7 separate regions of the Homo sapiens genome follow, and regions 1, 2, 3, 4, 6 and 7 are each reported to be linked to region 5. Evidence: microRNA targets listed by miRTarBase, many of them from high-throughput screens and not tested one by one. Region 5 holds a microRNA gene; each other region holds the end of a gene's coding sequence.

The links. Region 5 holds the annotated microRNA hsa-miR-410-3p (AAUAUAACACAGAUGGCCUGU, at 2,643-2,663, opposite strand). A microRNA usually pairs through its seed, bases 2 to 8, with sites in the 3' UTR of a target mRNA and lowers its output. Matches are read on the target gene's strand: a 7mer-m8 pairs with bases 2 to 8, a 7mer-A1 pairs with bases 2 to 7 and ends in A, and an 8mer does both.
Region 1: miRTarBase lists TMCO1 as a target of hsa-miR-410-3p. Seed matches in the 3' UTR shown: 7mer-m8 at 2,526-2,532.
Region 2: the mRNA of MLLT3 is a reported target of hsa-miR-410-3p. Seed matches in the 3' UTR shown: 8mer at 1,684-1,691 and 7mer-A1 at 762-768.
Region 3: the mRNA of BLTP1 is a reported target of hsa-miR-410-3p. Seed matches in the 3' UTR shown: 7mer-A1 at 3,264-3,270 and 7mer-A1 at 3,102-3,108.
Region 4: miRTarBase lists TRIM2 as a target of hsa-miR-410-3p. Seed matches in the 3' UTR shown: 8mer at 3,306-3,313, 7mer-A1 at 2,558-2,564 and 7mer-A1 at 1,146-1,152.
Region 6: miRTarBase lists SNX5 as a target of hsa-miR-410-3p. Seed matches in the 3' UTR shown: 7mer-A1 at 1,134-1,140.
Region 7: the mRNA of SLC25A27 is a reported target of hsa-miR-410-3p. Seed matches in the 3' UTR shown: 7mer-A1 at 1,826-1,832.

Annotation. Positions count from the first base shown.
Region 1 is chr1:165,724,649-165,728,716 of GRCh38, forward strand. It overlaps TMCO1 (transmembrane and coiled-coil domains 1), which reads right to left. Exons shown (of 7, transcript NM_019026.6): 7 at 2,147-3,473. The coding sequence ends at 3,375. Among named protein-coding and RNA genes, the nearest start is that of ALDH9A1, 28 kb to the left of the region's middle.
Region 2 is chr9:20,343,083-20,347,150 of GRCh38, forward strand. It overlaps MLLT3 (MLLT3 super elongation complex subunit), which reads right to left. Exons shown (of 11, transcript NM_004529.4): 11 at 1-3,492. The coding sequence ends at 3,361. It overlaps LOC124902129 (a long non-coding RNA gene), which reads left to right and starts at 4,037. Exons shown (of 4, transcript XR_007061434.1): 1 at 4,037-4,068.
Region 3 is chr4:122,361,690-122,365,758 of GRCh38, reverse strand. It overlaps BLTP1 (bridge-like lipid transfer protein family member 1), which reads right to left. Exons shown (of 88, transcript NM_001384125.1): 88 at 3,007-3,728. The coding sequence ends at 3,512. Among named protein-coding and RNA genes, the nearest start is that of ADAD1, 15 kb to the left of the region's middle.
Region 4 is chr4:153,334,611-153,338,679 of GRCh38, reverse strand. It overlaps TRIM2 (tripartite motif containing 2), which reads right to left. Exons shown (of 12, transcript NM_015271.5): 12 at 1-3,866. The coding sequence ends at 3,714. Among named protein-coding and RNA genes, the nearest start is that of MND1, 8.0 kb to the left of the region's middle.
Region 5 is chr14:101,064,555-101,068,623 of GRCh38, reverse strand. It overlaps MIR410 (microRNA 410), which reads right to left and starts at 2,712; the gene lies at 2,633-2,712. It overlaps MIR541 (microRNA 541), which reads right to left; the gene lies at 4,046-4,069. It overlaps MIR409 (microRNA 409), which reads right to left and starts at 3,324; the gene lies at 3,246-3,324. MIR412 (microRNA 412) reads right to left here and starts at 3,177; the gene lies at 3,087-3,177. It also overlaps MIR369 and MIR656.
Region 6 is chr20:17,938,907-17,942,970 of GRCh38, reverse strand. SNX5 (sorting nexin 5) reads left to right here. Exons shown (of 13, transcript NM_014426.4): 13 at 564-1,371. The coding sequence ends at 614. Among named protein-coding and RNA genes, the nearest start is that of SNORD17, 22 kb to the left of the region's middle. RefSeq lists enhancers at 1,887-2,478, 2,454-2,543, 2,574-2,663, 3,904-4,033, 3,666-4,064.
Region 7 is chr6:46,675,793-46,679,861 of GRCh38, reverse strand. SLC25A27 (solute carrier family 25 member 27) reads right to left here. Exons shown (of 9, transcript NM_004277.5): 9 at 1,672-3,479. The coding sequence ends at 3,408. All of the region lies in intron 1 of TDRD6-AS1 (TDRD6 and SLC25A27 antisense RNA 1), which reads left to right. Among named protein-coding and RNA genes, the nearest start is that of TDRD6, 10 kb to the left of the region's middle.

The sequences.
Region 1 (4,068 bases), not on the chromosome of region 5:
GGACCACAACAATTGAAGAAATTTAGGATGTGTATCAGCTAACTGCAATATTCAGTACCTTACTTGGTTCCTGATTCCAAAAAACTGCAAAAATTTTTGACATCTATAGACAACACATTATATTAAGGAATTGTCCATTTTCTTAGGTGTAAAAATGGTATTCAGATTACACATATTTTTTAAAGTCCTGAAATATTTACAGATAAATGATAAGATTTGCTTCAAAATAATACAGAAAGGGCAGAAGCAGGTGGGGTTACAGATGACACAAATTAGCTAGGAGCTGATAATTGTCGAAGGTGGAGGATGGGTTACCTAGGTGTTCTTTATTCTCTCTTTCTCTCTCTCTCTCTCTCTCTCTCTCTCTCTCTCTCTCTATATATATATATATATATATATAAAATAGTGTATATACATAATAGTATATTTTTGAGATTTTTCATTCTAAAATTTTTTAAAAACTCAAACTAGAATAAATTAAAAGACTGACTTAAGCAGAATTAATCTAAAAAAAGAGAAAGTATATAGTACTTTTACTTAAAGGGCAGTATTGAAATACATAAAATAAGTATAAATAGTCTGAAAAAAACCTACTCCATCCTAGTTTGTGGCAAAATGCTTTTGTTTTAGAAGGGGGATCTAGAAGCTCTATCAATTGTCTGATGTAATTTTAAGTAACTGGCCCCATTGGAGAGAATGACTTACCTGGGAAGAGAAAGGCCCAGTCTGGTCAAGGACATATGAATATCTACACACATTTGCTTTCCAATTTCCAAACTAGCTTAGCTTTTAGAATGTAACCTGTTAATAAACTCAGGTTTACTGTCATTTTTAAAAGTTTACTACTTTAGCATATTATGATTGCAACCTGAGTAGACTAATGCAGATATTAGTAATGGCTGTTTTTCTTCCCTAGACAGGAGACAATCCATCTTACATAGGGAAAATAACCAAATTATGTGTTATGAGAGATGTTCAGAGGCCTGTCTTGAAATGTCATCTCCAATGATCTGGTGATGCTGTGGACCTAGAGTGTCATCCAAATAACTAGTCTTGAAATTTCTTCAGGACAAGAAATTTTAAAAAACTAATTGTGAGGCTGCAGTAGCCCTTAATAACTCCTTGAATTTAATTCTTGTGATAGTTTTATTTCCTCTGTAATATATCTTTGTTATTGTGCTTTTAAGAATAGAGTGAATATACATAAGCAGAACATATTTGGAAAAAAATTTAAAAAAATTTTAATGAATAGGGTGAATAGATGTAATCTCTCCTTTTTAACTTCTCCCTCTTATTTATTCCTTACCATGGAAACATAATTTGTATATGAAAACCTGGTCCATAAGAAGTCTGATTAGAAAGCACCAACTTCAAAGCCTCAGGGTATGAGTGATAGAGTGTGCTATATATTCTCACTTTAAAAAGGTGATGGCAGAATTTTGAGGATGGTTTCATGTTTTATTTTAGCCATTTCATATTTGTCATTATTGTTATCATGGGCATCATTTTCTTCATTATCATTCGAATTATTATTTTGCTTAGAGTGGTCAATGATATGGAGAAAAGACCATTAAAAGTCATTACCATCCATTATCAGACATCCTTCTGATAAAACTAGTCTCAGAATAGGGACTTCTGTTCCCTTTCATCTGCTTTTATTGAGCTCCTGCTGTGTTTCCACCCACGTTGACTACTTTGTAATAAGGAGAACAAAAAAAAAGACAAAGTCCAACTTTAGAGAGCTCACACACTCTAGTTGAGGAGATGGGATGAGAAGAGAATCACCACATACCCATGAGGAGGCTGTAATATAGAGCTTGACAGCCTGGACTATTAGGCTTTACACTGGTTGAATTCAAATCCTGACTGCCACTCAATAGCTCTGTGATGCAGAGCAAGTTACTAACCTCCCCTGCCCCAGTTTCCTCATCTGTTAAATGAAGGTAAGAACAGTAATTACCTTGTAGGGCTGTCTTGGGATAATCCTTAAATTAGATAATCCATAAAACACTCAAATTTATCCATATATTCATCCATATATTTTATTTCTCTGTTGACCATTGTTTCTTGTATGCCATACCTTCACCTTGGGCAGATCCTCTTTTTTGTCCTTGGAATATAACCTTTAATAATTCAACTCTCTTAGTTTTGTATGTCTAAACATGTCTTTATTTTGCCTCCAATATTGTACATAAAATTCTAAGTTGATACTTATTTTCCTCAGCACTTTGAAGATACTTTTCTACTGTCTTCTGGACTTTATGGTGCTGATAAGAAAGAAGTTTGCTGTTGGTTTAACAATGATTACCTTGAAAATTATGTGTTTTTTCTCACTGGTAGAATACTCACATTTAAGTAGACATTTGATGAATGTGCATATTTATTGATAAGACTCCACACAGGACTCCTAATTCCATAGATTATGCGGGGAGGATCATGGTACAAACATCCTTCTCCCTTATGAAGGGGCATGGCAGAAAATGAAGGCTATTGTGACTAAAAGGAAGCTCTGCGAGATTAACAACATATAACTATAACCTTGTCTCCAAGGGAGATCTAAGAGTGCCCCCACAAGAATCTGAGAGACTGTAATAGGATATGAAGAGAACAGCTGAGGACCCTCATTTTTATTTATTTATTTATATTTAATTTTTTTTCAGACATCAGTGTTACTTGCCAAGACCCTCATTTTTAAACTCCAACGAGTTATTACGTTCCTTTCCACTCTTGCTTTCCAATTCCTACACCAAGACAACTCTGTATTTTGAGTATATGAGTCAAGTATGGCAAAAAGTACAGTACCTTAAAAACTTTTATTTTAGTCCTTCCTGGCCCATGCTAAAACTTATATCTAGAAATACGGCAAAACAAAATGAAACAGATCTCTCCTTGTACATAAAACAGCTAAAAATTTGGCCTCTTTATTGATCTTATGTCATGTATTTGGCTTGAAAAAAAAACAACAACAAAACAAACAGTTACAAGGGTTAAACAAACTAAATTTTTCTTCTAAATCTCTAAATGCTCATAGACAGCCAACTTGCAGGGCATACACAGTGCCTTGAGAGTCGGTCCCACAGAAAATACTTATGTAAATGAAACAAGAAGGATGCTATTTGTTTTTCATTACATAAACATTACCTGAACTTAACTAATCAATCCACTTATTTGATAAAAATCATCTAGGACCAAAAGCACTATCAAGTTTGCTGGCTGCCATTTTCACTCTAATCATACCCAAAAGGCTTAGAAATAATTCAAAACTAGAAAGAGGCCCAAGTAGTAAGGCTACCTATGGCTCTTGCTACAAAACAGTTGCCAGTCTGATGTGTGTGTGTCTAGAAAGAATGATAGAAAATAAAGAGTTCTTGAGTTCAAGAGAACTTCCCAGAAGGAGGTGGTGGGCCAAGAAATCCACCTGCCTGCTTGGTGGCGGCTCGTGAAGGGGCAAGGCCGAGAATCTTCTGAATGTTCTGTGAAGAAAGCACAGTAAGGATTGGGTTTTAATATCAAATATACAGAAGATGTGTTTTATGTAGCTCTCAGGCAAAGGGAACTCATACTCATATAGATTAAAGGAACCATTATGACCTGCAATAGGATGATTATCACTTTTTTTTTTTTTTGAGATGGAGTCTCGCTCTGTCACCCAGGCTGGAGTGCAGTGGAGCAATCTTGGCTCACTGCAAGCTCTGCCTCCCAGGTTCACGTCATTCTCCTGCCTCAGCCTCCCGAGTAGCTGGGACTACAGGTGCCCGCCACCACACCCGGCTAATTTTCTGTATATTTAGTAGAGACAGGGTTTCATCATGTTAGCCAGGATGGTCTCGATCTCCTGACCTCATGATCTGCCCACCTCGGCCTCCCAAAGTGCTGGGATTACAGGAGGGAGTCACCGCACCTGGCAATCACTATGTTATTTTTTAAAAAGGCCTACAATGTAATGAAAATCATAGAACAGTAAAAGCCTTCCTTACCTGATGAGACCTTGGTCTACTAATGAAAGTGGTTGATTTTTTTCGAGTAGAGAATCATAAAAGGAGATAATTTTTTTAACAAGAAGCATAT
Region 2 (4,068 bases), not on the chromosome of region 5:
ACATTTGTGGAGCTTGAAGTAGTAAATAGGATGTTATACAGGCCTAAAATTGTTTCTTCTCTTTTTTTTAAAGATTAGGTGGGCCTGTAAAAGATATCGGCAAAAAAAAAAAAAAAAAAAAAAAAAAAAAAATTTTGAAGAAACTTTTTAGTGGAAGAAAACCAATATTACTGGCTCTTTCCACCAAAAGGTGAATATTCAGATTAGAGAGATTTAAATTGCCTAGCAATTTAAAATGTTTAAGACACTCTCTTAAGAGATATTTTTTTCCTGATCTGAAGTTTTTATAGTCTTCCCTACCTTGACACTATATGAACGCATTTATAGACATACCTATTTGTCTGTATTAAGATTGAGAGAGAGGCAGATTATGCTGAGGATGGTGAAGTAACTGCAAAATATTGTTGCTAACATGACTGTTACATCCGAAGACAGAAGGAACCCCAAACCCACCAACACACATCCTGCTGCAAAACCAGAGGCAAAAGCTAAGTTATAAGGGGGCAGAGGGGCAGGAGCTCTGTACATATATTTTTTCCCCTGGCTGATCACTGAGGAAAAATTTTTTAAAAGTTTATCATACTCTGGCTGGTTCAAACCATATTCACATTTACCCAATTAATTTTATTTGAAACATCTATTTATATATGTACACCAAAGAAATTAAACCCTGCCATTTTCCCTTTGTGCTTAAGAAACCAGAGCCACTGTTAGGGTACTCACATGTCAAAGATATTCTTAATAGGCTTCAAAGTTGGGTGTATATAAATGTGACAGAACTGAAGGGGTTACTTTAAGAGAGGTATTAAAACTACTTGAAATTAATTCAAAGGGATCTTTTTATTTCTGTATTTAAAAATTAGATGAGAGCAAGATTACCACTTCAAAAAAAATAACGTAACTCTCAGTCTTAATTTTGTGAAAAACTTACTTTGCTATCTTGATGAGTAGAAGATGGATAAGTTTTTCTGAACTTTATCAATTTACAAACTTACATTTTAGGATATTCTGAAGAAATTAACTTTATTACCTAATTTTCAAGTCTAAAGTTTATCATATAATAGCTGTCCTTCTTATCATTATTTTTGTTTGGTCATTTCTTATCTTACCTAGCTTCTTGGTTAGTAACTTAAAGGAAAAAATTTTTACATTGGCAAATCATATTTTTTGCCCCACAATTTAGTTACAGAAATAAAAATGGCCCAAACTACATATATACGTTTCTAGTTAAACTACACAGATATATTAAATCACATAAACTTCTGGCTTGATCAGAATATGTGTTAGCAGTTAGAAATTTTAAAATATTTTAAAAATTTGCAACATTTCCATATAAACATTACCCTCCCCTTCCAGCTATAAAGTTAAAAACAAAACGCAACTGAAACCACACAATTCATCAATCACCTAATGTCCAAAATGACTCAAAGTTTCTCTGCACATCAAGAAGTGGACAATACAACAAATGCTTCAAGTACGGTTCATGCCAATCGTCATTAAGAATCATAACATTATTGAGAAAGTACACTTGTCCTCTGGGAGGACGCTTCAGAGAAATAATTTACAAGGAGCATGGCTGTATTATAATTTTTTAAAGGAAAAATAGTTTCTTTGGATAGAAAGAAACAGTGTAAAAAATCCCCTTTTTAAAATGCAGAAATAACTCCATTATCAATCTGCATTTATATAACTGCCCAAAAGAATGGGTCTGGAAAGACCATTTTCTGTACAGACACTAGTTAATCTCTGTATGAAAAGACAGCATCTGGCATGGGAACAAACAAGGGAGATACTGGTCTATTAGCACACATAGAGACTTTCTTAAGGCTGATCCAGTGACGAACCTTTGGATCCAGAAGTATTTCTTCATTTCTCTTCTTTTCGGCTGAATTTCTAGTAAAAACTTTGAAGATGAGCTGTTCTTACTTTTCATTTCTCCACTTATGGAGAAGATGGAATAATGACACCAAAAGTACTTTGGTTTTTTTCTTTTAAAAATAATTTGCTTTCTTTTGCATGCCACAGGACAGATTTCTAGTTTCAAAACAAGGGTACAACAAGAACAAAAAAATCCCCCCATCCCCAACCGTCTTTCACCAATACAAGAAATCCTTCTGGAAATATTAGCAAGCAACTAAACAGGTATTGAACCACTGAATCTACAAGTTAATACATAATCTGTTATGGCAGAATAACCAAGAATTTTTCCCCAAAGAAAGATTTTAATTTTTTCAAATATAAAAGTGTCTAAGAGAATCATATGTGAACAAACAAAAATCTCTGATTCCAGATTTTTAGGATAAAGATGAGTAACACACTGGCAGCTGAAGAAAGCTGAAACTCTGACTAATAAATAGATCCAAATTAAGAATTTCTACAACAGTTTTTTTTTTTAGAAAACAGGACCAGAATTCTTTTTTTTTAAATGATGATCCTGTGGAATGCCTTTACTTCCATATTCACCTAATATTGTAACAGTAAAACAGACACAAGAATGTTGATGACAGCTCAACAATGCTGGATTCAGGACATTTACAGGTACACTTTTGTTTAAAAGTCCTACAAGTTTATTGACTAAGGCTAGACAGCAATTCATATGATCCTATTTGGTGCATTTTCTACCATGGTCCAAGATCATTACATGGATACAGCCAAGGACTGGGCCCCAACTTTCAGGAAAAAGACCACAAAGAAGAAAATCAAGGTGGCTATTTGGTCCCCCCAGTTGATAATCTGTGTCCTGGAACTGGAAAAACAAAAGGTGGAAAATACAGACTGCAACGAGTTAAAGGACTTGGAAAAAGTTGGTGGAAAGTGGCACGGTATACGAGTAAGGTCACTGGGCTTGGGATGGCAAGGGTGCTGCATTGAAAGAGCATCCACGGGACCAAGTACTTATAATGTCTGATGGTGTCATTCCCTCAACGACTTAGAATATCTGTATGCGATAATAAATAGATCAGTTATGTAATAAGGCAGTGTGTTGAATATGCATTCGTCCTGTGGAATGAACCACCACAGAGAGATACATGATACCATACACATTCTTTGAGTTTTCTTGTGTTGTGTTTGATTTGTTTGTTTTCAAGGCTATCCAGGCTAACTCTTCCCGGGGATTTCCTTGGAGAGAAGAGTGGTCCGCTGAGGCTGGTTTGCTTTAACCTCTCCTTTATCAAGAGATGATGACTGGCTTTAAAGAAAAATAAAGCTGAAGGTTGTTTGATTTTTATTTTTTCCCTTTTGGTTGCATCATTTTGAGTGTTTTCATATAAACAACAAGAACAAAAAATCACAACCAAAAAAAAAAAAAACCAAAAAAAAAAAACACAATAGTTCTTGATGCATCCAGTTGTTATATCCTCAGGATGTTCCAGATGTTTCCAGGTAACTCTGTAGTTTACGGACTGTGGTTTTGTCCAGCGAGCAAAGATCAAAATCAAATGTTGTGTTTGTGATATGAAAGTGTCCAGTTTCTTCTATAAGGTTCACGATCTAGAGGAGTGAAGAAGAGAAAGTTTGGGCAATACGCAGCAAACATCAAAAGGCAAAGAGAGAGTAATGGAGGGGCGATCAAATATGGAATCAAGTGATAAATATTCGTATTTATAGCAACAAGGTCCCATACCATGAATAGCATTAAACTGTCTCAGTCAACTTGATAAGTCAAAGGTATATTAAGCCTTAGAAATTCCCAGTGAGAACCTGTCTTGCTTTTCATACCCTTTAAACTGATGTCTGCTTTCAAGTCATGAACAGAATATTTAACTGTGAGTGAGCAGTTAGGGGGAGATAGCATTTCAAGACTCCTTTAAAAATTAGTTACTGACTCAATAGACAGTGATTATACTTAATAGACATAAGAAAAATCCAGCCGAGAAATAACAAAACTACTTTTACTTAAGTACAAACACATACACACACACACCCCTATATAAAATCATTTTCCTTTATCATTATATAATTGTTAATAATTTGGAAAATACAGGAACTCCCAAAAAAAAAAAAAAAAAAAAAGGAAAAGAAAGAAACTGTCTACAATCCCACCCCCTTAACAGATAGTGACCAGAG
Region 3 (4,069 bases), not on the chromosome of region 5:
TTGTTAGTTTTCCTTCTAACAGTCAGGCCTCTCAGCTGCAGGTCTGTTAGAGTTTGCTGGAGGTCCACCCAGACCCTGTTTGCCTGTGTATCACCAGTGGAGGCTGCAGAACAGCACATATTGCTGCCTGATCCTTCCTCTAGAACGTTCATCCTAGGGGGGCACCCGCCAGATGCCAGCCGGAGCTCTCCTGTATAAGGTGTCTGTCAGCCCCTACTGGGAGGTGTCTCCCAGTCAGGCTACACGGGGGTCAGGGACCCACTTAAGGAGGCAGTCTGTCCGTTATCAGAGCTCGAACGCTGTGCTGGGAGAACCGCTACTCTCTTCAGAGCTGTCAGGCAGGGACATTTAAAGTCTGTTGAAGGTGTGCCCACAGCTGCCCCTTCCCCTGAGTGCTCTGTCCCAGGGAGATGGGGGATTTATCTATAAGTCCCCGACTGGGGCTGCTGCCTTTTGTTCAGAGATGTCCTGCCCACAGAGGTAGAATCTAGAGAGGCAGCCTTGCTGAGCTGCGGTGGGCTCCGCCCAGTTCATACTTCCTGGAGGCTTTGTTTACACTGTCAGCATAAAACTGCCTACTCAAGCCTCAGCAATGGCCGAGCCCCTCCCCCCACCAAGCTGTAGCATCCCCGGTCGATCTCAGACTGCTATGCTAGAATTGAGAATTTCAAGCCAATGGATCTTAGCTTGCTGGCCTCTGTGGGCATGGGACTCACCGAGCCAGGCACCAGAGGGAATCTCCTGGTCTTCCGGTTGCGAAGACTGTGGAAAAAGTGCAGTATTGGGGCAGGAGTGTACCATTCCCCCAAGTACAGTCACTCGCAGCTTCCCTTGGCTAGGAACGGGAAATCCCCTCAACCCTTGCGCTTCCCGGGTGAGGCGACTCCCGACCCTGCTTCGGTTTGCCCTCCGTGGGCTGTACCCACTGTCCAACCATTCCCAATGAGATGAACCAGGTACCTCAGTTGGAAATGCAGAAGTCACCCTCTTCTGTGTCAGTCTCGCTGGGAGCTGCAGACTGGAGCTGTTCCTATTGGGCTATGTTGCCAGAAATACCCTAGAAATTCTTACAGCAATTGATGGAACATTTGAATCTAGTAAATCAAACCTAATAATTAAAAATTTGAGCTTTGTGTATTTTAATTTTTTTCATTTTGAATAATTGTTACTATATTTTACAAGATTATTGATTTATATCATGTTCAACTTTTTCTAAAAAAGGGTTCTTCACTATAGACAGTTTGCAAATCACAGATCTCTAGTAAGCCTAGAAGTACAATATTTGCCGATAGGAAAGCAAAATCCTTTATGTAATTTTTTTTTACATGTTATTGAAATTTTACAAGTTATCTGGATGCACCGTGTGATTTACTGGAATAGAACAAGGTACGTGATACTCAAAAAATAACTATAATAGACCACTTGGAAGCTTTGTAATCTAAGCGGCTGACCATGTTTTTTAATTTAGGAATAAATCTTAGAGATCATCTTTTTTTTCATGGTTGCATACTATGCTACTGAATGGATGTCACTTTTAATTAACCTGTCTTACACTGATGAACATTTGAATTGTTTCCAGCCATTTATTACAAAGAATACTGCAACATACTTCCACAATACTGCACTGTTGCAGAATACCGCAAATATACATGCTTGTATAATTATTTCACACAGGGAAGTATTGTATGTATGTCCAGTAAAAATTATATGCCTTTATTATTTTGACAGCTGTTACTTAATTGTCCTTCATGGGAGTTGTACCAATTTACATTCTCATCAGTAGTGCACAGATGTGCTAGTTTTCTCATAGCTTTGTCCAACAGTCATAGAAATTTTAAGTAGTTACAGATTTGTCCTTTTGCTTTTTATAACGTTATCAGTTAGTGCCAGAAATAGGGTAAGTTTATACTTGTTATTTTATATGCACCAATGTTAAGAGATTTGGGGGTCAGATTCAGAGATCAGATAGATGACAGCTATGATGGCCTAGCAGAAAGAATACAAAATTAGGACTGTTAAAACACTAGGGTTTTGGTTGTGTGACTAAGTTGCTTTGTGACATTAGACAGCAAATCTTAATTCCCCTACTAACATTTACTAGATCTACACCCTTGGCTAAGTACCCCAGCTCTTCTGGAGTTTTTTGTTGTTTAATCTGTTAGAGGTAAAACTGTCTTATCTACCTAAATCTAAGAGTCTGCACTAGAGGCTTTCTTTAGGTGTTTTCTAACTCTAGCTCTTCAATTCTACTGTTTACCCAATCTTTAAACTGGCCATACTGACTTGGCTAATTTCCAACCTGAGGTAATTATAGCTACCTTTGAGTATTATTTTAGATCTTGCCATTTTAAATTTTTTATACTTAATGTGTGTACATAATACACATATGTATCTGTAATATATAACATACATTATATATAACTTCATACACACAAAAAATACAAACACGTAAGGAATATAGTATAATAAAAATTACTTGCTGTGAATTTCCCATTAGCTTAAGAAAGAACAATACCTAATATTTCTCGTAGGTATTATTAATATACCTCTTGTGTGCCTGTCCCTAATTTTTTATAAACATAGTCATCTTCCTGTGTTCTTGGGGGATTGGTTCCAGAACATCCGTAGATGCTCAAGTTCCTCATGTAAAATTGTGTAGTGTTTGAATATAACTTACGCACATTCTCCTGGATACTCTTTAAAAATCATCTGTAGATTATTTACAATACCTAATAAAATGCCTACACATCACTTCATTCATGTGGACTTAATGTACTTGGTAAATACAAAAGTTTTGCTTTTTGGAACTTGGGTGGAATATTTTTTTTTTCCTGAATGTTTGTTTTCGATCTGCAGTTCATTGAATCCACAGAGGTAGAACCTATGGCCCAACTCTAATATAGGTATAAATCATCATCTTCTATGAAAGCATCTGATCAGCTGTGACACAGCATGGGCATCTATTAATTATAAAAAGGAGAAAAAGATTGAAAAACTACTACAGACTTAAACCATTACTGTGACTTTATTATAATAGTTAACAATATTTTAGTGGTATACAATCATATCACAATTACTCAAGCTATATACAAACAGGTATTTATATAAGTCTACATTTAAAAAAGAAAAAGCAATTAATGACCTCCCCAAAATCACATTATCATCAACAAGATTTTTTTCTAAAAGTTACGGCCAATCCAATAACAAAAAAATTCACAGTTATTCTGCAGACATTTTAAAGATGCAGGAATTGTATTGCACATTATATAATTATAAACCATAACAAGCAGTTATATATTTTAATCTAGTTTTTCACAAAATTTACATTATCATGCAATACTTCACTGTACACAGAATGATGGAACTAGAACAGGTTAACTTACAAACTTTTAATTATAGCCACAAATTTAGAATTATTTTAAAGTTATATTTCAAATTATTATACTAAAAAAACACTCCAGTGTAATAAAACAGACACAATCATAATTTGTTCACAGATCAAATTACTTTTTTAGTGTTCTTCTTTGTCTTTGCCTTTCTTTTCCTTTTCATCCTGTAGTGCAGTACCGAGCTTTTTGATAAGAACTGACAGAACCTTGTCCAGTGGATCCATGACTCCTCTTTGAAGCCATTTAGGAATAGTAGTCCTAGCATGATGAAAGCCCAATTTTTGAAGAATATAATCAACACCTACTGGATCAATCTTTCTTCCAGTCCAAGAAATTAATCTAAAATAAAAATTACAGTTATTATTAAGGAGTGTAATGCCCTAAAGCATGGTTCTAATGGTAGGAAAAGAACATCACTAAGCCTCTATAATATACTCAAGACAAAATATTTTCAGTAGGTACATTTGTATAAATGAGCCCATAATTCCTGGATTCACCATAATAATAGCATTCAAAAAATAATATATGTATGATTATAAATCTCTTTGACAACCTAAACACAGCAATAGTGTTTACTATATTTCATCCTGAATATTTTAGGCCTGTTATACAGTTATCTTAAACATATAAAAGGACATCTGGTTAATTTTAGTAGATTTCATAAGCATGTGGCATAATGG
Region 4 (4,069 bases), not on the chromosome of region 5:
AAGTTTTTAAGCATCATGATTTGTAGCTTACTGTCATTGAAAACAAAACAAATAATTCTTTATTTATACCAAACAAATCTTTGATGGGCACTTAGTTTCCTTTATGGCAATACTAGATTTCTAGTTATCAAAAATATTAAAGTAATTATAAAGTTTAAAACCCTGCAACATTTACAGAAACCAACAGTATTACCACTTTCACTTTTAAGCTAAATTAGATAATGTTTGCATGAAATAGCTTTCATTTTTTCCTACCTGGAGATGTCTTGTTTTTAAATTATTAAATTGTCAAACTAAAAATACTCCTCCCTTTTCAGAAGCTAGTGAATAGAGAGGGTACTATAGAGTCTACAAAAAGATTTTTCCCATTTGAAGTAATCTGCAGATTACCTAATGTTTATTTACTACTTCCTCCAATTAACTAAGTAGGTATTACCAAAGCATTTCTGTTAACCCGTCAGTGCTAAGGATTCACAGATACTTGCTAGTGTACTGCTATTCCAGTTAACTCCATGTTAGGACATACCCTGTATATTTAGTAGTGGAAGCAAGTGTGTTCTAGCTGCATGGATCTGGAGTATTTATTTGCTTCAAATCTAGTCACAGTAAATTAAAATAAGGAAACTTAGGGACTTGTTTAGTTCTGGAGACTAAAGTTTGATCAAAATACTAAGTACCATTAAAAAAAATGGCAAACAGTCATAAAGGACTTGTAGTCATGTATTTCTGGATGGTCAAGTGACTCTCTGCCTCCCCATGTCCAGCAAGGGGGGCTGGGGGGTCTGTACTGGGAGGAAATGCGTCGTCACTGACCTTGAAATCCCAACCGGCAATATTTTGCCTTACGTGCCCAGGGGAAATTTGAATGAGTAATTTTTCAGTGCTACTTATCATGAATGTATGACAGGTTCTATACACTTGACAAAGAGAAATCAAACAATAATGGTAGCCCAGAAAAAAGCCACTTATTTTAATATCCTTCTCAGTTTACCAGAAACCATTTTCCATAGAATGTGACAAAATTTCATTTAAATTTTGTCTACTTGTATCATATCAGCAGCACTTTCCCCCAAAAATATGCTTACCAAGAAATACAGTAAATGCACATATGTATCCAAGTGTGAAATGTTATCTATACTTTAACATATATAATCACATATTTTTTGGAAAAAATATAGTGTTTCCTGGAGTGCTCATAGCATGTGTTTTAGCAACACATAGTGGAGCAGGTCTGAATCAAACTATTCTTTCATTCCAGTTTGTGCCAATATTGACATGTAAAAAAAATTAGCTTTGTATTCAGTCTACTATTGAGATATCTAGCCTGATAGGATATGATATGATGGCTGGTTAGATTGTAAGTTAATTTCTAAGTTCACAAATATAATTGAAATGTTGTGCAAAAAAACTCTTTAAATCAACTAGTTTTAAGATCAACAGCCTGGGACAGAAAGAATCTAAATAAAAAGCCATTTTTACTTGTGAAAATAAACTAAAATTAATGTAACCAATTTGAAAAGTTTCTTTTAAACAATCTAGACAAGAGTCTAGCCTGTCTTTTGTGCAGAACGTTAGTACGTGGCAAAATGAAATTCCCACCCCAGAATGTCAGCTCTGAGGGGGCAGCGATTTTTTACCTGTTTTGTCCATCACTGTATTTCCAGTGCCTAAAAGAGTACTTGGTACCTAGTAGGTACTCAGTAAATATGAATGTTTAAATTCAAAGATGTATCTCACTGATGTTAGGAAACAGTGTCTTCATTTAACATTCTAAAAAGTTATTGAATTTTATAGCTTTATCACGGACAGGCTCAAGTATTTTTTAAAACTCTACCTAACTAAAAAAATATTAAACCTAAATGTAAATCTTCCTGGAAAAACCTTTTTTCAGAGGTTGATTTGGGCATAATAAATTTAACAGACAATTTGAAGTAGCTAGATTTCCCTTCTAAATTTTAAGAAGTCCTATATAGAGAATGACTGAATTATAAATTAATAAGCAATAAACATCACATTCATATAATTATACATAGGGGAAATGTTTTCTTATAGTACAGTTCTAAGGTGCTTTCAGTGAAGAAGACCCCAAAGTCACTATCAAAAATGTCAAACATGACATCCTATTTGGTAGAACTGAGTAGAAAATTAAACAGTGGAAATAGACCACAGCTTATTTTACAGTACCAATGACAGATGAACGATTGACTAAATTGTTCTTAACATTTCTCAAAATGCATTTATATTTAAATTAAATGTAACTCAAGTTCAACTTTTATTTTGACCTGTTGGGTTTTTTATGTGTGTGTGTGGTTTTTTTTTTGTTTTTTTTTTTGAAAGCACAGAAGGCCATTTTCTGACTAAAAGCCACCACCGTCATTCTTGGAAAATGGCAAAAATTAAATCTGCTTTAGGGCTTGCTCCACTAGGACGGCTTTAAACTGCTTAGTAAAGGAATGTGCTGAAGAGTGGCTGGACGAAGCTTCTGTCTTTCAGAGTGCTGCCTATTTCAATACACCAAAGATTCAGCTATATATATGTGTGTGTGTATATATATATATATATAATACATTCTATCTTACCCTAATCATGTATACATAGTCCCTTGACACCTCTACTATTCATTAAACAATGATAAATAACCATAACATGCCCTTACCTGTAATGCTTTCAAGATAACACAACTTTGGTAACACTTGCTTTCTAAGGGGGAATCATTAATCAATCACATGCCTTTGGTTGACACCATCAGTCCTCCAAAGGGCTACTTATGGCTCTCTGTCCTAGGATACTGGTGTCCTACTACATGTGCTGACATTTGCAGGAGGTAAAGCTTTCGCTTTCAGGAAGTCGAAGAGAAGAGACACGTGTGAAAACATGGTACATAAAACATGACTAACTTTCTTGATTACATTCCAGTGCAATGATCTGGAGTTAACGGGGCAGTTTGTTTCCCAAAAGGTAGCATTACTTTTGTAATATGCTTTTCAAGGCATTAGAAATTTCAGGTTTCCCTGAAGAAGTACTTTGTTTGCTGATACAAGGTGAGCCAAAGGGGTGGTGAAAAGAACACACAAAAAAGGATCTTTGTCTAACCCAGAAAGGTTGAGAAATTTGCACTGATACTTAAGTTCTGAACTCCAGAGGGCTGCTAATCAGAGCTGGGATCATTTTGCAAGACAGCCTTACTTTTTCCAAAGTAATTTATATTTAGTTGTTGATAACCAAAAAAATGTCACAAGAGTAATACCTACTGTAAAAGTGAGGTTAGAAGATTCCCTGGGTCTTGTGACCTAGGTTAAATGAAGTATATAACTACAATAGATTTTGTTTTTGTTTTGCTTTTGGAAGTTCTGTGCAAAAGCTACCATTCACAGGATTAACGAATACCTTTACATATGCTAGTTTTTTAAGTGTCTGTTTGATTTGCAAAATTAGTTTAGCTACATAAATCCTGTCCCTTAAGCCATAGTTCACAGATGTAAAACTGCAGTTTTTATAGATTCAGTAGAAGAGTTTTTTTTAACCCTAAAGGTGAAATACAGAAATTGGATAAGTCATTTTTAAGGAAATTGTTACATTCAGAAATAACCTTGGAAAGTTCACCAATGATTCCTTCTGGCATAAAAACTCTAGTCATAATCTGGTCCCGCATTGAGAAATCCATTCCAGTTTATAGTGCAAGACCATGGAAGCGGGTATCCACCTGCCCACCATTACTGTAAGTATCGATAGACTTTGAAACAGTGATTTCCAGAGTCTGCAACCACAACATGACCATCTGAAGTTAGGGCCAGGCCTTGGGGGCCATAGAGTGGGTCAGCAGATGTGTTAATGTAGGACAAAAATGATCCACTCCCATCAAAAACCTGTAAACAAATAGGAAGTCAGAATGTTATAGGAGAAGTTATAGTAATATGCTGAACATGGGTTAGAAAACTCTTGATGCTAATGTTTTTCTGTTTCTTTCTTTCTTTTTGACAGGGTCTCACTCTGACACCCAGGCTGGTGTGCCGTGGTGTGAAGACAGCTTACTGTAACCTTTAATTCGTAGGCTCAAGCGATTCTCCTG
Region 5 (4,069 bases):
AAATGTTCCCATTTAGTCAGCCCCATGCATAAAATATGAGCCCTAACACCACGCTCCAGCCCGTTGCAGATGGAGTTCCCCAGAGCATTTGGCTCTCAGCGCTGGGGCGTTTGCTGGAGGGGCGGGGGCGCGATCAGTCGGCATCTGCAGGGGAACACAGGGCCTGTCACTTCCTCTGGGGCTTTGGTGCCCCCACCCCCCGACAAGTGGAAGAGAGAACCCAGACCCAACTGACTCGTGCCTCCTGCAGCTAATCTCAGCCTCATCCTGGAAGGGCAGAAAAAGCTAGAAAACCAAACAGCTTTGAACAAATGGGAAGAATTTCTAAAAATCAATTAACATATTCATGTACTCCATCACCACATCTTATTGACTGCCTGCTTTGTGCCCAGCACCTGCCTGGGAATTCATCTGATCCGGTCCCTGCCTTTGGGGACTCCATTAGTCAATCAACAAACACTCACTGTTCTGCTACTGAACACAGCAGGGGATGAGAGAGAGAGAGAGAGAGAGAGAGAGAGAGAGAGAGAGAGAGAAATTTCTGCCAATGAGAAATCTCACAGTCTAGGGCACAAAGAAGGTAGACATTAACATTAGGCAATTTCAGAGAACTGTAAGCTAGGAAGAAAACAGTAACGGGGCAACTGGTAGAATGTGATAGGGAAGAGGCAAGGGGAGCTGCTTTTATAGGGTTATCAGGGATGACCTTGCTGAACAAGAGCCATTCCATCCCCTTGGGAATTGTGAACCCCTGGGAAAGGAAAATGCAAAGGATGTGGGCCTTTAAGGAAGGAAGGGCCAGAGCCTGGACAGGAGGCAGCCGAGGGCAGAGCAGGGCGGCCCAGGACCCAGCTCCGGAAGGAGGGGCATGTGCAAGGCCAGAATGAAGGATGAAAACACGTGGGGGATAGGCTGTGGCTCCAAAAGAAGAGGGGGGCTGCCACTCTGAGGGCCTGGGGGGTCCTCGGATCATTTTGGTACCAAGCCCAAGGGAAGGGGCCTGCAGAGGTGCCCTGGGCAGCGGAGTTAAACAGCTGGACTCTGCACTTGGAAATGCTCTCCCTGGCAGAGGGAGGGGCACTGGAGGGAGACCCAAGTGCCACAGGCTGGAGGGACCTAGCCTGTGGGGCGGCCTCTCCAGCAGGGCTGTGGCCCAGGGGCTGGGGAAGAGGGGTGCTGAGGGAGAGTGGGAGCAGGCAGCCCAGAGGGATGGTGCCAGGGATCCCCACTCCCATGCTAGGCATGGAGAGGAGCGGTCCCGAGGAGGAGGACAAGGGGGAGGGCAGGCACAGGCTGTGACTTCCAAGGCAGCGACGTCTCAACTAGGGGATGACGGGAGCCCAGCTCAGGAAGATCTCCCGAGCCCAGGAGCTCACTGATCAACAATGAGTGATAAAGGACAGCCTTAGCTCATTCTTTGGGGTCACTCCTGAGGTGCTCCTTGCCTTCAGCCCTGGACCCTGGGCATGGGCAGCATGTTCTGGAGTCACTAAGTCTCCAGGTCAGCTGCAAACAGGCCTCTGGTCATCTTCCTGTAGTCTGGGCAGGCCAGGGGTGCAAATATGACATAAGCATCGGGTAGCTGAGAGCCAGCCCAGCCTGGGGGATGTGCCAACCGGAAGCAAGGGCATGGCGGGTGCTCCCGCTGACACTGGAATTGGGGATGCCATTCTGTCACACTTCCAAAGCCCCCCAGAACAGAGTGGAGCTGGAAAATTAACAGGCCAAGTGACACAGGTCCTACACAAAGTCCACAGGGTCAACCAGCGCAGAGCCAGCTGCTGCCTGGAGTTGACAGCAAAGAGGAAGGCATCCAAGGTGGGATTCGATATCGGAAAGAGGTTGACTGTATAATATTCATCATATAGAAAGTGAACACCTCACAGGCAACCTATTTCAGGTACCACTGAGCAGCACTGACTCCAGGGAGGAGGCTTCTTCCACAGGGAAGGGCCCTGCCACCCACCCGCCTCCAGGATGGAGGCCAGCACAGGGCTGCAGGTGGAAGTCAAGCGCGTGCTCGGCCACCAGCCATGCCTCTGGGGGCCCACAGGGCGCGCAACCGGACCTCCCCGACATCAGCAGGTGCAGGAATCATGCAGGTGGGATCTGATACTGAAGAGAGGCCGCTCGTGTCTTGTGTGTCATGATTTCTGTGAATGCAACACAGGCCACCTCTCCTCAGGCACCACAAGGAGCAGCACACGCACACGGCCACCCAAGGCACCAGCTCCCACCCAGGGTCTCACAGCACTGAGATGAGCAGAAGGCAGCCCAGGTGCAGGGAATGCATGCAGCCGCCCCCAACATCCTGGCGAGGGGTGGGTGGCCTTCCAGCAGGATGCCTTCCAGCGGGACTAGCTCCCCCGTGTCCTCTGCCTCGATGACACTGGCCATGAAAAACAGACTGAGCCCCGTCACCATTGCTCATCAGCTTCATGACCGCCCCCCACCACAGTGCACAACCCTAGCATCTTCCCCAAAGTCCACATGGCCCCCCGAAAGCTCTCCCAAAATGATTCAATGGCGGGGGTCAGGGGAAAGGATGACAAATGTCACACCAGCCCATGCATTCACGTACCCTGGAAAGTCCCGCCTCAGGCGTGGCGCCCGCACACCACCGGGCGGTAGCGGTACTGAAAACAGGCCATCTGTGTTATATTCGTCATTAATAAAAGCGAACTCATCACAGACAACCTCTTCTCAGGTACCCAGAGTGCCATCGGCTCAAGAACGTGGCTGCCGCGTCCCGTGGTGCCAGCGCTGCCCCCGGGAAGCAGTCCTGAGGACGGATGGGACATCAAAGGTGAGAAGACACAGAGACAGGAAAGAGACCCCTGCCCGGCCCACTCTCGGTGACCAGGCCCCACTGAGGCAGCGACTCCAAAGCACCCGTCCTGCTCCTACCCTCAAAAGGGCTTCATCTCCAACGGGTCCTCCAAGGTGAGATTTGATACTGAGAAAAGATCAACCATGTATTATTCGAAGTCAATAAAGCGAATATAACACGGTCGATCTCCCTTCAAGTACCAGGAAAGGCGCTGAGCTGAAGCGCGATCGGCTCCCCGGCCCGCAGGCCCCACAGGCTGCAGCGGATACGGACGGCTAGTGGACCAGGTGAAGTACATTAGAAACAATTACTTTCCAACTGGTCGACCATCCATCCCCGTACCCCAGAATGGTGCTGATGCCGGCGTCCTTCCCCGAGGTGCCCCAGCCTCCAAGACGGCCTCCCTGGTGGAATTTGATACCGAAAAGGGGTTCACCGAGCAACATTCGTCGTCCAGATGCAAAGTTGCTCGGGTAACCTCTCCCCGAGTACCATGGAGAGGCTCAGATGCTCGGACTAAGGTGAATGCTTGCAGGCGGCTGTGCTTGCAGAAGACCCTCCCCCAAGGGCAGCACAAGGTCTGGGCATTCAGAGCCCAGAGCCTCACACTCTCCAAGGACGTTCCCAATCACCAAGTCCAACGATTCCAACCCCTTCCAGAATGAATCTAGAGACTCTTCCCAGAAGTTGAGTGCAAGACCCAGGTAGGATCTTATACTGAAAAGACGGCAACCTTCCTTGGGCACCTTGCTAAAGATGAAAATGAAACCCTGCTCGCACCCGCTTTTCATTCCCAGACCCTGAGAGGGGGTGACCCTGTAGGGACCCCTGCACAAGCACAGAGCCTCCCTCCCAGCAGAGGATTCCTTTGGCGGGAGCTCAACGGGGCACAACGCTGACCCCAGACCTGCGGTCTCACCAGCACCATCTCCAGCCCACAGAGGCATCACCCCAGGATCCCTCAAAGAGTAACTTCACAGTTATCAACAGCTGGCTGACCATCTGATTAGCCTCATAAAGCAAGTGAGACATTCAAAATAAGGGACTGGGGGGATAAATGCAGCAGAAGAAAGCAGGTGAGTCACAGATGTCTTCTCTTCACAAGGGTCAGGGCAGCCCTGACCTCAGAACCCAACCTTCCCCAGACTCAGAGAACACCCAGAAGGTGCCTCCTGGAGCGGGCAGCCAGCAAGCATCGGGCCAGACGATGGATGCCACAAGCAGAGTCCAGATTCTGTG
Region 6 (4,064 bases), not on the chromosome of region 5:
ACTCATTGTTTATTTGTAGTCTTGTTTATAATGTCACCCATGACTAATTTTTAGCAACTTTTTTTTTTTTTTTTTAATAGAGATGGGGTTTCACCATTTTGGCCAGGCTGGACTTGAACCCCTGACCTCAGGTGATCCACCTGCCTTGGCCTCCCAAAGTGCTGGGATTACAGGTGTGAGCTAAAGCTCCCAGCCCTAATTTCTAGCAACTTTTATTCAATCTTTCCAAGGCCCTTGCCTTCATGGAACAACGCACTGATAGTGTCTTAAGAAGTTACAGTAAGCAGGATCACATTTAGGAGCAAGCAGGTGAGGGCAGAGGTGCTGGAGTGAACGTCGGCTCTTTGGCTGGTAGCCTTACCCACTGAGGGAGAGGAGCTGAAACATGAAATGGGGATGCGTGGTACGTTGCAGTTCACCTGGGATTTGATGAAGAGAAGGGCCAGCTTGCTCTGGCTGACTTTAAACCTCCCGTGAAAAGCCGTGTTGGTGTACTTGAGTCATTCCAGGTATATGGCAAGTTTTAATAATTCACTGGTCTGCCTTGCCTTTTTTCCCCACAGAACAATGTCTCCCTTTTGCAGAGCTGTATTGACTTGTTCAAGAATAACTGATATGCCTTCACTCAGAAGAAAAGAAATGAATGTGAAAGAAAGCCAAGCATCACTTGCACTTAAATCATTACCACGGAAGATATATTAGCTTCAACTTTAGTTTAAAATTATGTGAATAAATATTTTGATTTCTACAAATCTTAACATTTAACCATGTTGGTTTAAAAATATTATTGCTTGCTACTTGGACATAACTAATTTTTCCTTGTGCATTTAATACCTCTGGGCAGAATCCAAATACTGGGTTCTCCCGTAGTTCGTCTTTAGTTACTAAGAAAGGGTGTAGGACACATTAGCCTTCTGGAAACAAGTAGAAGCCATCACCTGGCCCATGTCCCTACAAACCCATGATTGTCAGGGAGGTGCCAGTTACAGCAGGTGATTCAGCTACTTGAGGTCGGTAACAGACCTTCCATTCCTCACTGAAGGTGGGGTTTGTGTTTTTGTTTTGCCCTGTTACTCCACTGGTAGTCATCTGGTGTTTGTACTATAACAACAGCAAGAAAATCTCATTTATCTTTATATACTCTTTGCACCTCCTTTTTTTAGTCGAGATATAAATATTTGAGGGGAGAGAAATATCTACAGGTATATATGGAAACAAATAATGTGGTCTGCTTTATAAGATGGCCAGATCTACATTAGGAAAAGTATAAGCCCCCTCCCTAATGGCCGCTGGGGGGTGAGGGCGGTGTGTTGTATGTCTTTGGGTGTTTGTTTTTTTATAAAGCATATAATAAAATAATCGTGCTACTAATGTACGGCCTGTTTTCGTGGAAACTACAACCAGAGTGTGTCCCAGGAGTGCAGGTGGTGCTAGGGTTTGGCTGTGGTTACAGGGTTTTCAGGTTCTGCCCAGAGTCCTGGGGGCGGTCAGGGGAAATTTGTCCTAGTCTTGACATTCTTAAGTACTCCAGGCCTTTTTTAGATGGTCTCTAAATGTGGGTTTGTCTGTTTGCTCCTGACCTGATGGAGGTTTGCATTTTGGCCAGGGCCTTTACCATAGGGCAGTGGTCCCCAGTCTCAGGTCCATGGCTTGTTAGGAAGAGGTGAGCCAGCATTGCCGCCTGAGGTTCGCCTCCTGTCAGATTAGCAGCAGCATTAGATTCTCATAGGAGTGCAAACCCAGTATTGTGAACTGGGCATGCAACAGGTCTAGGTTGTGCGCTCCTTAGGAGAATCAAATGCCTGATGATCTGATGTGGAATGGTTTCATCTGGAAGCCATCCCTTTCCACACCCCACCTTGTCCATGGAAAAATTGTCTTCCACGAAACCACTCCCTGGTGCCAATGACATGTCTTCAGGAGTTGTGTGTCTATTCCTTTGTTGATGACTGAGCACTTAGGGTGGTAATCTCCTTTACCTTTCTAATAAGTAATTCATGGTAAGACCATGAGACTAAAAACATTTTACCCACCACATTTAGCATCTGTTACAGCCAACTGGTATGAGGGTTGCAGAACTGATTTCAATACATACAGGGAGCATGTTTCTTAACATTTATCTGGTCTTCGTGTCTTGCCTCCCCAGCTATTTACAGGCGGCCACAGTGCCTTCTACCTTCACAGTACATACTTGGGAAACGGTGCACAAAATGAGTGAATTTAAACTTGGCAGTTGTAACTTCAGTCTGGGCTCCTAACCAAATCTGTCCTTCCTACCCATCTCCCCCATAATGTCCACAGCAGCCACCCACACACGCCCAGCATTCTGTTAGTGTAGAGCCAGCACTCCTGCAGTCAGGTTCCTGGGCCGCAGTGCTTGAGCACCAGTGTGATCAGCCCTGATTGGTGGAGCTCTGGCTGTTGGCCTCGGGGCCTTGGTGCATTTTCTTGAGACTAAACCTTGTCAAATGGACAGCAGAGGCATGAATCTTGAGTGCTGGGTCTGCTGCTCACCAAGTGATCTAGGCTGCCTCTCTCAGCTGACTGATCTGTGAGCTGGAGTCAGCACTTCAGAGGCCCCTCAAATTAGTTTTATGCCAGCAATCTCTAATACAGCCTTCATGGATGGTATGATTGTAGATGTTTTACCTGCTGTATTTGTTCCAAGGCTTTTCATTAAATTGCACCTGACAGTCACTTAGGAAATTTGAGGCACTCTGGGTCAGGGATGTAGTCACCTTTCCCCTTCTGTCAGTCACCTAGTGAGTTGCTACCTTTACCTGTATGTGAGGGTGCATTCATAGTGGTCTGGGGTGGGGGGATGGGTTTAGATGCTGACTGCGACCTGTGTGGTGTGCTGAGACCTGGAAAGGCAGGCAGGCACTTGGCAGCAGGAGGAACAGCATCAGGTGGGAATCCACAGCTATCTTGCTGGAGTGCAGGAGAGCATAGGTCCCACATTGAGAAATGGGAATTTGGGTCACTTCAGGGTGATGTGTGGAGAGGCTTTTGCTGTGTGCTTGTATGGTTCTGAGAACTAGTGATCCTCCAGGAAAACCCATGTGGGTGCACAATTCATAGGGAACCCTTGAAGGTTTCTAGAAATGGGAATGGGAAGTGGTTTCAGATGGGCTGCCTTAAGGCATCCAGGCCAAAAAGGCTGTGACTTGCCCAAGGCACGGCTGAGAAAGTTGCCTCGTGGCACACGCAAAACTGCACAGTTCACATGTCATACGATTTCATTAAAAGCTAGGATCCAGCCTGAGAAACAGCGCAACCGTGTCTACAAAAAATGCTAACCTACAGTGGTGGCATACACCTGGAGGGCTGAGGTGGTGGGAGGACTGCTTGTGCCCAGGAGTTCAAGGCTGTAGTAAGTTAAAATCACACCACTGTACTCCAGACTAGACAACAGGGACAACTGCCATCCACCTCCCCTCTCCCCGCCCTCCCCCACTCTGAAAAGCAAAATTAGGAGATTGTCACGAGGAAGGAAAGCACACCCCTGGTCTGTGAAGCCGTTGAGGTCATGTCAGACCACTGGGGTCGTTTGTGGTGACAGAGCACAAGCATTTGGCCAGTTCACCACCCAACACATTCACTTGTGCCATCTCAGGGTTTAGGGGTCTGTTTTCTGAACATTTGCCTTGCGCACCTTTTCTTTGTGAGGTTTCTTTGTGGTAATTCCCAGGCTCAGCTCTGTGAAGGGCGATTTCCGTTTGGAAGGAAACCTTGCACCATCCGCTTTCTGCCTGTAGGCGGCAGGGGCGACCCAGCACAGCCACCTGCCCACCCACAGCTGAGCAGGAGCCTGGTATCCCCGCAGAGCTGCTCAGATTATCAGCTTATAGCTAAGGTAGCAGGAAGAGAAATGTCAGGCTACTTGAGAGTTAAGTAGTTCTGAATGGTGTTTTCCCAGACCAGCAGTCCCCTCCAGGATTCCTGCGGGCTTCAGGTTTCTGGTTACCCAAGACACAACCTCCATTGCTGAGGCCATGCTGTTCGAGAACTCCCCATCTGAGCCTGGTGTCAAAACAGTTGTGATGTTGATGGGGGTTCACAGC
Region 7 (4,069 bases), not on the chromosome of region 5:
AATTGGGAAGAAAAGAATTACTTATTTTCCTTTCCAAAGAAATTGTTTTAACCATCAAGTATTAAAATTGACCATTTTTTCTAGGAAAGTCCTGAAGGAATTTGTTTTCATTAATAGAAAAAATATATGTAATTATAACAACTGTAAATAAATGTGCTTGAAAATTTGAAGATGACTGAATAACAAATCCTTTCATATTTATATTGTCCTGAATTTTTATTTTTTTATTAGCAAAGTAAAAGAGAAATTGCAGACTCATATGATAGTCACAGATTCTTTTTTTTTTTTTTTTTGAGATGGAGTCTCACTCTGTCACCCAGGCTGGAGTGCAGTGGCATGATCTCGGCTCACTGCAAGCTCCGCCTCCTGGGTTCACGCCATTCTCCTGCCTCAGCCTCCCTAGTAGCTGGGACTACAGGCGCCCGCCACCACGCCCCGCTAATTTTTTGTATTTTTAGTAGAGACGGGTTTCATCATGTTAGCCAGGATGGTCTCGATCTCCTGACTTCGTGATCCGCCCACCTCGGTCTCCCGAAATGCTGGGATTACAGGCATGAGCAACCATGCCTGGCCAGTCACAGATTCTTAAAACAATAAAGATAAAATTAATTGATTCATGTTATACGTAGCTGTAATCATTTTTTCTTAATAGCAAAGAAATGCTACTAAAGAGAGCAGAGATTTATATAAAAATGGAAGATGTATACCTACCCACTAGTAGCTTACAATCAAATAGTATTGGGAGCACTTGAAAAAGACATGTTATTCCATATTGAAAGCAAACTTAATAAATGTTATCCCTTTAATTATATATAAATTAATTCATATATAATTTATATCATATATGGCAAATTTAGTCTATAATTATATATACTAATTCATTTATACATATAAAAAACTACATAATTAAAAATAAGTATATGCATTTTCAGTAAGAAAAAAATCATTTGAGAGGAGAAAAAATAGAGAAATACCACATAGAGTAGTACTATAAGTAAGTGAGTTTGGAATTCTTAAGTCTGTGAGTATGGACACAAAAATTACTGAAATTTTTAATCCTTTTTATTTACTGAGGATTATTTTGGAAAACAAGATGATTCCAAGTTGGCAAAAATAAGCAATGTTCCAAAATAATCAGTAGATATGATTTCACCAGAAAATTATGAATGTGATTGGATAAGTATTGGGTATACTGGATTTGGTTAGGTTATAGAAGGTCTTCATGTTCAAGCTAAAGCATGGTGACTCCATTCTAAAATGTATGCTAGAGACAATTCAGATTCATCTAAAATGTATGAGACATAAAAATGCCATAAGGAAAAATCTGTTTTTAGAAGACTCTACTGGGTTGTGACCATGACATAAGACCCTTCCTTGGTACCTAATTAGTGAACAATAACTCTCAGTCATAATAATCATATTAGGAGAACTGTGTTTTTATCCTGGCTCTGCTACTAAGTCACTCATGAGCATAAACAACTCTACTTCTCTGAATCTCAGTTTACTAACATGTGAAATGGGAAGGTTAAATTAGATAATCCCAAGGAGTCATTTCAGGTTAAAAGTTCCTGAAATTCGTGTTGATCCAGATCCCAAGGAATGATGTCAGTGCGTAAGCAGTGTTTTCATCCCAACTCCCCGACCCCACAAAGAATAAAGCTAAATCAATTGTTCACGGTCCAGGTTGGATGCAATTATTTTGATCCAGTCTTTACTTAATTTTAAAAATTACAAAACATAAAAACAAACAAAATTTTCCCTAAGTGGTTCAATGCAGAACACTTGGGAAGTTAAGCATATATATATATATATATATATATATATATATATAATATTTTACAACGCAATTACATATTGACAAATTCAATGAAAAAGTAGACCATCTAAATATTTTAAGAGATTAAACTTCACATTCTCTGCAACTAGAAAAACAATAAGCTACTGCATATCAGTACATGACATTCAAATATATTTTAAAATGTACTTCCCCCTCTTAAAATGGCAGTGAGTATACATTAGTGCAACCACAAAGCACTTGTAAACTTTTTTCTGTTCAACATCATCCATGTCCATTAGAACAAATTCTGTTTGGCTGGCTCCAAGGCCTTTCTTGGGCCTGAGCTTTTCATGTTTTTCTGTGTTAACAGTTACAGCCTTTATCCATAACCGCAGCCATCCATCCAGAAATGCCCACCGTCTGAGGTTGGGAGAGCCGGTGGTATGTAGCTGAATTTGAAGAACTCTTACCTTTCTAAAATAAGAACATGGATTTGATTCAAAGATTCGAGACATAACTGTATACCATAAACAGATTTTTACTTATCACTTTTTAGGCAAGAATTTTTGCTAAACTGAGTAAGAGTCAGGCCGCTGGCAGTTTTAGTGTGATTTGTGAGTGCTCTCTCTGCCTCTCTAGAGCCCCTAGTGTCAGGTAAGGGAGATAAGAAAGGACGCATGTCAGAGTTGGCTGACTTCATATCTATCTGCCTTGCTTTTAAAATACCAATGAAAGGCTGATGTTTAACAAAAGGTGCTTTATAAAAGGATCTATACAGCTGAGTTTTAATCAAATAAGTTGTAGTTCTTAATATATTACAACTCTTGAGAGCTAGCAACATATCTGGCTTGTAACAGACTATGTAACAAGGCAAATGCTCTTCTCTTTTTTCATCAAGATTCGGTGTGTGGCTGTCAGAGGAAGTCATTAGCATGTGCAGTGGAGTGCTAACTAATTAACACAGATCTAATGAGAGGGCACTGACAGAAAGCAGCCTCTTTTCTTGAAATTCAAACATCATCTCAACTTGATTTTTTTTATCTTTCTGACAAGAAAAAGTACACCTTCCTTCAACACTAGGGAAACTCAAAATGTTTATTCATTAATTTCCATTCACCTCCCTTTAATTTACAGTATGTACGCTTTAACAATGACAGAAAAGTGAATTATCAAACTTCATTGATAAATACTGACATAACAGGTTAAATGTATTTCTTAAGCACTATGTATGTGTTCTTCCACATTCCTATCGTCTACTTCAGATCTGAAATGCTGGCTCCCTCCTGGTACTCCTCCTCTAAGCAGGCTCTTCAGCATAGAATAGCAACTCAAAGGCCAAACCTTCTTGCCCAAGGTGAAAGTGGTCAGGCTTCGATTCTTCTTTAGAAAATGCTGTGCGGGGTCTCATTGGATGGCCTTGTGAGATCCGACCAGATCACTTTTGGACAAAAAGAGGAGTCAAAGAGAACTTGGGTTTCCAGAAAAAAATAAAGTGCTGCCCCCTATAAATCAGTCTCTGTGGAATAGGTGTCTTCCTAAAGAGGTAGAAATAATAGGGGGTATGTGTTGCAGATGCCCATATTTCAATAATACTGAACACTGTATCTTTAAGGGTTGCATCTTTAGGGGTTTAAAATGGACTGACTCCACTCATCTCTCTGATTTTTTCATAAGTAAGCCAGAACACCATTGACCAAGGGGTCTGAAAGATTAACCAAAGAAGTTAGTGCATATTTCAAAGCAATTATAAATAGTCTACATATGTGCATACATATATTTGAATGACAAAGTCATTTTGCAACCACTTAGGCTGAAAACAAATATTTTGGTATTTCACCTTTGTAAAGGACTTTATAATTTACAAAGCATTTTTTATGTCTTATATATCACAGATTTCTCTAAACAACATCTTACAATAGAAAGGAAAGATATTAATATCCCTGATTTTCAGATGAGACCACTGAAGCTTAGCAGTCAAATGCCTGTTGACATGTTGTAGAGCTAGACCACAGGCTTCTGTTTTCCATTCTCAGAGTTCTTTTTATTGAACCATTACTGGCTAAAGGGCTGGGACTCAAGATGCCTGAATTCTAGGCAGGCTTTTCTATATCTAGTTTGTATATGGAGCATAAAAATAAGTCACTTTAGAACTTGAAAGTGAGGAAGGTGAAAGATTATCCATGGAGATTTAGGTCATAAAACCAACACCTGATGTCTCACAACATTTATATAAAAATTCACATTAAATAGAAAAAAGCCCTTCCAGTTCAGAAAGGCTTGTCTTTAACTTGA